Homo sapiens: one gene and its partner. The protein of the gene in region 2 purifies or fractionates together with the protein of the main gene of each other region. This does not show direct contact. Each region holds a gene or a part of one and is shown on either strand. Other genes may lie near its edges.

What was found. The genes of interacting proteins can lie anywhere in the genome.
Region 1: the proteins of CNOT1 (region 2) and BTG3 purify together in Homo sapiens (affinity purification with mass spectrometry; one large-scale study listed by BioGRID and IntAct). This does not show direct contact.

What each region holds. Positions count from the first base shown.
Region 1 is NC_000021.9:17,599,402-17,602,901, forward strand, and holds part of BTG3 (protein BTG3), read right to left. Parts: intron 1-3,500. UniProt on the Homo sapiens protein: Overexpression impairs serum-induced cell cycle progression from the G0/G1 to S phase.
Region 2 is NC_000016.10:58,623,327-58,626,826, forward strand, and holds part of CNOT1 (CCR4-NOT transcription complex subunit 1), read right to left. Parts: intron 1-3,500.

The sequences.
Region 1 (3,500 bases), on a different chromosome or scaffold from region 2:
ACTCCTAGGCTCAAGAGATCCACCCACTTCAGCTACCCAAAGTGCTAGAATTACAGGCATGCGCCACTGGCTGATTTTTTTTTTTTTTTTTTTGAGACGGAGTCTCACTCTGTTGCCCAGGCTGGAGTGCAATGGGTGCAATCTCGGCCCACTACAATCTCCACCTCCCAGGTGTTCAAGTGATTCTCCTGCCTCAGCCTCCTAAGTAGCTGGGATTACAGGTGCCCACCACCACGCCCAGCTAATTTTTGTATTTTTAGTAGAGATGAGGTTTCACCATGCTGGCCAGGCTGGTCTTGAACTCCTGACCTCAGGTGATCCACCCGCCTCGGCCTCCCAAAGTGCTGGGTTTATAGGCGTGAGCCATCACGCCCAGCCCCAGCTGTACTTATAAATGTAACATATATGCTAGTAATTCAAGTCACAGATCAACTAGAAATTTCCTATAAAATTGACTTTAACCCCAATTAAATAAAAAAGGGGGCCTGTTATTTATACTCACAAAAATGAGAACTGAGGCAGTTATTGAGATTAAAGAAAAAAGATAGTTGTTGAAGAATATAGAGGTTTTGCTTAAATTATATTGCTTACTTCAGAGTTTCCTAGGATAACTACTCACCTCTCATCTTAATTTTTTTTAAGGTAAGATGAAAAAATCTTGTTATTCTTCCAAAACATTTTTGAAGATTTTTGATTTTTTTTAAGTTGTCAAAATATGTAACATATGCTGCTGGTTACTTAAAAAAAAATTCTGAACTGTAGGAAAATAGTGTAATAAACTCAAGTAAAACCAAGAGTTTTTATTCAGTGGACATAGGAGAAATCCACAAATCTATTTAAATAGATTGCACAGTGTCAACACTATCAAACAATTTCTAGCATCAGGACAAAGGATATTGTTAAGCGGTTCTTACAAAACACATACAGTTAGAAATGTAATTAAAGTGATTCTAAGTTTGAAAAAAGATAAAAATAAGTAACTCTAAGTAGAAATAATGTCAAGCTTTTGATTCAATAGTTAGCTGAAGTTAATTCATTTCAAGATAGCACTCGTCTCAAATTATTTCTGAATCAGAATGGTTATCTATTATAAAGTAAAAGGCTTAACTGCTATAAAGCCTTTGAAAATGTACATGAGGCTGGGTGCAGTGGCTTACACCTGTAATTCCAGCACTTCAGGAGGCCTAGGTGGGCAGACTGCTTGAGCCCAGGAATTTGAGACCAGTCTGGGTAACATGGTGAGACCCTGTCTCTCAAAAAAACAAAAAAACAAGAACAAAAAATTAAAAAAACAGAAAAGAAAATGTATGTGGAAATCTAGCAGTCTCAGAGATCACACATAGATGAGTTCTATTTCTTCAGATAGCTATGCTGTCTTCCATTCCTATAGGCCAAATGAAACTATAAATACTACTTAAATATAGTACATAACTTCGCTTTTGTATTCTTTTTTAGTTTACCTCATAAAAGTTGCTACAGGGGCTGGGCGCGGTGGCTCATGCCTGTAATCCCAGCACTTTGGGAGGCCAAGGCGGGTGGATCATGAGGTCAGGCGTTCGAGGCCAGCCTGGCCAACATGGTGAAACCCTGTCTCTACTAAAAATACAAAAAATTAGCCGGGCATGGTGGTGTGCGCCTGTAATCCCAGCTACTCGGGAGGCTGAGGCAGGAGAATTGCTTGAACCTGGGAGGCAGAGGTTGCAGTGAGCTGAGATCGCACCACTGCACTCCAGCCTGGGCGACAGAGTGAGACTCCGTCTCAAAAAAAAAAAAAAAGTTGCTACGGGATGGTAGAAAGGGCATTAGACTAGTTTCTCATTCTGGCTCTGCCACTGACTAGCTTGGTCACCAGAGGCAAGTCACTTAATTTCCCTAGGCCTTAGTTTCCTATATGCTGGACGAGGAAGCTGGAGCTGGCTAGATAGTGGTTGATCTACGGCTGGTGACTCTTCGTAGTATAAAATACCTAAACAGAAGCTGGACATGGTAGCTTACATCTATAATTCTAGTACTTTGGAAGGTCAAGGCAGGAAGATTGCTTGAGCCCAGGAGTTCACAATTATAGTGAGCTATGATCATGCCACCGCATTCCAGCCTGGACAACACAGCAAGACCCTCTCTCTAAAACAAAACAAAACAAACAAAAAATAAATTCCTAAACAATTGAGTTCCTCACAACATAAAATTTGTGTTCTCTAATTTCAAGTTTACTTAGCATAAGGTTTTAGCAATACACATTTACTCCATGTCCCCTCCACAGTTGGAAGACTCAACAAATTTCAAGACAATCAAGGGTTAATTCATGTGTTAATGACACTAATATAACAATGACTTAGGCCTATCTTCAGTTTTGCCCATTAATGGAATCAAAATTCAAAAATGGAAAGGCAAGAAATTTGAGAAAAATTCCTGCCTTTGTAAACAGAAACCTCAACCAAGGGCAAATATCTAATGATTGAAGGATCAGCATTATTAACTCAGATTTCTTTGACACCTAGTTTGGTTCTGCATTTTTCCCTTTGTACTATTTTGGTATGAAGGCTCTCTCTTCATGGTAAGAGAAGCTGCTGACTATACTACTATAACATTACAATGTGCAGTCGATATCTTAGGAGAATTAGTAGACACCTGGACAACTTTTAAACTTTCCATTTTTCAATGATCACTGATAAAACATCAAGGCTAATTTAGTTATTTAGAAACAATCAATAGTATTTAACACTCTATTGGGGGAAAAAAAGGATGGCAGAAATCACCAAAAAAAAAAAAAGTTGTAAAATATGTTGAGTAGATAAGCTGGCATCTGTTCTCAGAACTTCTCATCATAGGCAAGATTTATTTTCTATTCTGTATCACGAAGTGATAACCTTTCTAACTATATGGCACTCTTTGTACTCTTGCAGCATTTTATTCTATCAGAGTAAGTGAAGACTATGAAGAATGTTCTCAGTGCATCTCAATTTTTTTTTACAATCTTAGTCTCTAGTATACCAATGAGTTATTATTTTTAAAGATTCTCAGATATTTGATCAATTGTATACTTGCTAGATCAGCTTTAATTTTCAAAATATCTATGTTTCCAGTTTTGGTGAAAAAATATTTCTCAATGTCTTTTTCTTCTGTTAACTTATATCAACCACCTCTACTAAACGATTAATACGTCTTTCTTTTTGGGGTTCTGTTATTGAATGAACACCTGACACTCGCAGGTGATTTCTATTAGCTGTGAAAAAAATCACATCAGAGCCAATTTTTGGCAAATTTACATATAAATTAGAAGCCTACTGAATGAAAAGGTTTTCTAAGATTAATAAGATGAAAGCAAAGTAGCAGTTTTTTCCTACCAGGCATCATCAAGTAATGAAATGTCTACTGAAGTAGAATGTCCGTATAACTAAAGTTTTTATGTTCAGGTACTGAGACTTATTTTAAGCATTTTAAATACATAGGTCCAAAATGTTTATATAATTATGTAACTTGTTAAACATCCTTGGACATAA
Region 2 (3,500 bases):
TAGAATGGTAAGTTTCTTTTTGTATGCTGAGTTGACTGATAGCTTGGCAACTTCTAGGTAGTTTCTGCATGGGTGCTGGTCACCTGAAAGATCAAGGCAAGATGAGAGGATTAGGACTTTTAGCCCCACCTCCTCCAAACTCCAGGGAGGGAAAAGGTGCTAAGGGTTAAGGTGACCACCAAAGGTCAATGATTTAACCAACTGTGCCTCTGTAATGAAGCCTCCATAAAAGCCCATAAATGACTGGGTTCAGAGAGCTTCCAGATAGCTGAGGCACAGTGTAGCCAGGGGAGGGCATGGAAGCTCCGCGGCCCTTACTTCTCCTACGCACCTCCTCATCCATATCCTTTATAATAAACTCTTGAACCTAAGTGTTGGCCGGGTACAGTGGCTCATGCCTGTCTGTAATCCCAGCACTTTGGGAGGCTGAGGTGGGTCGATCGCTTGAAGTCAAGAATTCGAGACCAGCCTGACCAACATGATGAAACCCCATCTCTACCAAAAATATAAAAAATTAGCCAGGTGTGGTGGCGCATGCCTATAATCCCAGCTACTTGGGAGGCCGAGGCAGAAGAATCGCTTGAACCAGAGCGATAGAGGTTGCAGCAAGCCTAGATCGTGCCACTGCACTCCAGCCTGGGTGACAGAGCCAAGACTCCGGCTCCAAAAAAAAAAAACCCTAAGTATTTCCGAGAGTTCTACATAAGCCACTCTAGCAAGTTAACTGAACAAAAGAAGGGGGTATTAGGAACTCAATTTATAGTCAGTTGGTCAGAAACACAGGTAAAACCACCTGGGACTTGAGATTAGCATTGGAAGTGGGGGACTGTCTATGGGACTTGAGCTTTCAACCTGTGGGATCTGATGCTATCTTCAGGTACACCGTGTCAGAATAATACTGAATTAGAGGATACCCATGTGGTGTCCACTGCTGAATAGCTTGCTTGATGCGCAGGGGAAAACCCCACACATCTGGTGGTGTGAGAATATACTGGAAGAAAGTTTATGTTCTCAGAATCAACAAAAAATTATCCTACATGGTTGCAACGTATTCAACATTTCAGGAATTTCCCTGTAACAACTGTAACACAGTTAAGCAACAGGTATGCTGGAGGTTAGTTAATGCTGTGTTTTCCAGAATTAAAGATATAAATGCATTTCTCAAATATATACACTACATTCCTTTAAATCACTGTGGGTGCGACGGCTTACGCCTATAATCCCAGCACTTTGGGAGGCTGAGATGAGTGGATCACAAGGTCAGGAGTTCGAGACCAGCCTGACCAACATGGTGAACCAGATCTCTACTAAAAAGACAAAAATTACCCAGCCGTGGTGGCACGCGCCTGTAATCCCAGCTACTCGGGAGGCTGAGGGAGGAGAATCACTTGAACCTGGGAGGCGGACGTTGCAGTGAGCCGAGATCACACCACTGCTCTCAAGCCTGGGCAACAGAGCAAGACTCCATCTTAAAAAACAAACAAACAAACGAAAAAACTCAACAAATGGCTTCATATTAAGTCTACACCTCTAATTACTGCCTTCTCAAACTACGCTTTCCAGTGAACAATGCTTTATTTGGTTTGCTACATTCTTGCAAATTTGAGTGAAAAGTACACTTAAAAAAAAAAAGTATCATAGGCCAGTATGGTGGCTCACATCTGTAATCACGGCACTCTGGGAGGTCTTGGTGGACAGATCGCTTGAGCCCAGGAGTTCCAGACCAGCCTGGGAAACACAGTGAAACCTCACCTCTACCAAAAAAATACAAAAATTAGGCCAGGCGCAGTGGCTCACACCTGTAATCCCAGAACTTTGGGAAGCTGAGGCAGGTAGATCACTTGAGGTCAGGAGTTCAAGACCAGATGGCCAACATGGTAAAACCCCATCTCTACTAAAAATACAGGCCTGGGCAGTGGCTCACGCCTGTAATCACAGCACTTTGGGAGGCCGAGGCAGGTGGATCACCTGAGGTCAGGAGTTCGAGACCAGCCTGACTAACGTGGTGAAACCCTGTCTCTACTAAATACAAAAAATTAGCCGGGCATGGCGGCGTGCGCCTGTAATCCCAGCTATTCAGGAGGCTGAGGCAGGAGAATCACTTGAACCCAGGAGCCGGAGGTTGCACTGAGCAGAGATCACACTATTGCACTCCAGCCTGGGCAACAAGAGCAAAACCCTGTTTTAAAAAAACATATATATATAAAATTAGCCAGGCATGATGGCGCGCACCTGTAATCCCAGCTACTTGGGAAGCTGAGGCAGGAGAATCACTTGAACCCGGGAGGCAGAAGTTGCAGCAAGCCAAGATCATACCACTGCACTCCAGCCTGAGGGAGAAGAGCAAAACTCTCTCTCAAAAAAAAAAGAAAAAAAACAATTTTTGACACGTGTGGTTAGCATGCACCTGTAGTCCCAGCTACTCAGGGGCTGAGGTGAGAGACTGACCTGAGACCAGAATATCAAGGCTGCAGTGAGCAGGGATTGTGCCGCTGCACTCCAGCCTAGGCATTGAAGTGAAACCCTGTCTCAAAAAAAAAAAAAAAAAAAACTATTGTATACACTGGGGGGCAGAAGGTGTTGAGCCCCTTTTAACTTTCAAAGATTCATCTTTAAAATTGTGAGCAAACAGAAAAGGAATTGCTAGATTCTTCTATATATAGAGTCACTCAATGGGATGCCATTTTGAAACTTCACAGCAGGAAGTTTTAGTTTGGTCAGAGGGTCATTAAAGAAATGCCTCAGTTAATATATATGACTTGAAAGTCTTTTCTTTTATAAAAGTATATACCAAGTTCAGGCCGGGTGCTATGGCTCACGCCTGTAATCCCAGCACTTCGGGAGACTGAGGCAGGCAGATCACCTGAGGTCAGGAATTCGAGACCAGCCTGGCCAATACGTTGAAACCTCTTCTCTACTAAAAATACAAAAACTAGCTGGCTGTGGTGGCAGGCACCTGTAATCCAGCTACTCAGAAGGCTGAGGCAGAAGAATCGCTTGAACCTGCGAGGCAGGGGTTGCAGTGAGCCAAGATTCCACCATTGCACTCCAGCCTGGGCAACAGAGCGAGACTGCGTCTCAAAAAAAAAAAAAAAAAAAAAAAAAGATATACCAAGTTCATAAAATACAGCATTTCAAAATGGCAGACTACTAGGCTGGGCACGGTCACTCATGCCTGTAATCCCAGCACTTTGGGAGGCCGACGCGGGTGGATCACGAGGTCAAGAGTTCGAGACCAGCCTGACCAACATAGTGAAACCCCGTCTCTACCAAAAATACAAAAATTAGCTGGGTGCAGTGGTGCGCGCCTGTAATCCCAGCTACTTGGGAGGCTGGGGCAGGAGAATCGCTTGAACCCAGGAGGCGGAGGTTGTAGTGAGCTGAGATCGCACCACTGCATTCCAGCCTGGGCAACAGGGTGAGACTCCGTCTCAAAAAAAAAAAGGCAGACTACTATTTTTGTTAATGTGGGACAAAATACTCATAACAAATATTTTGCA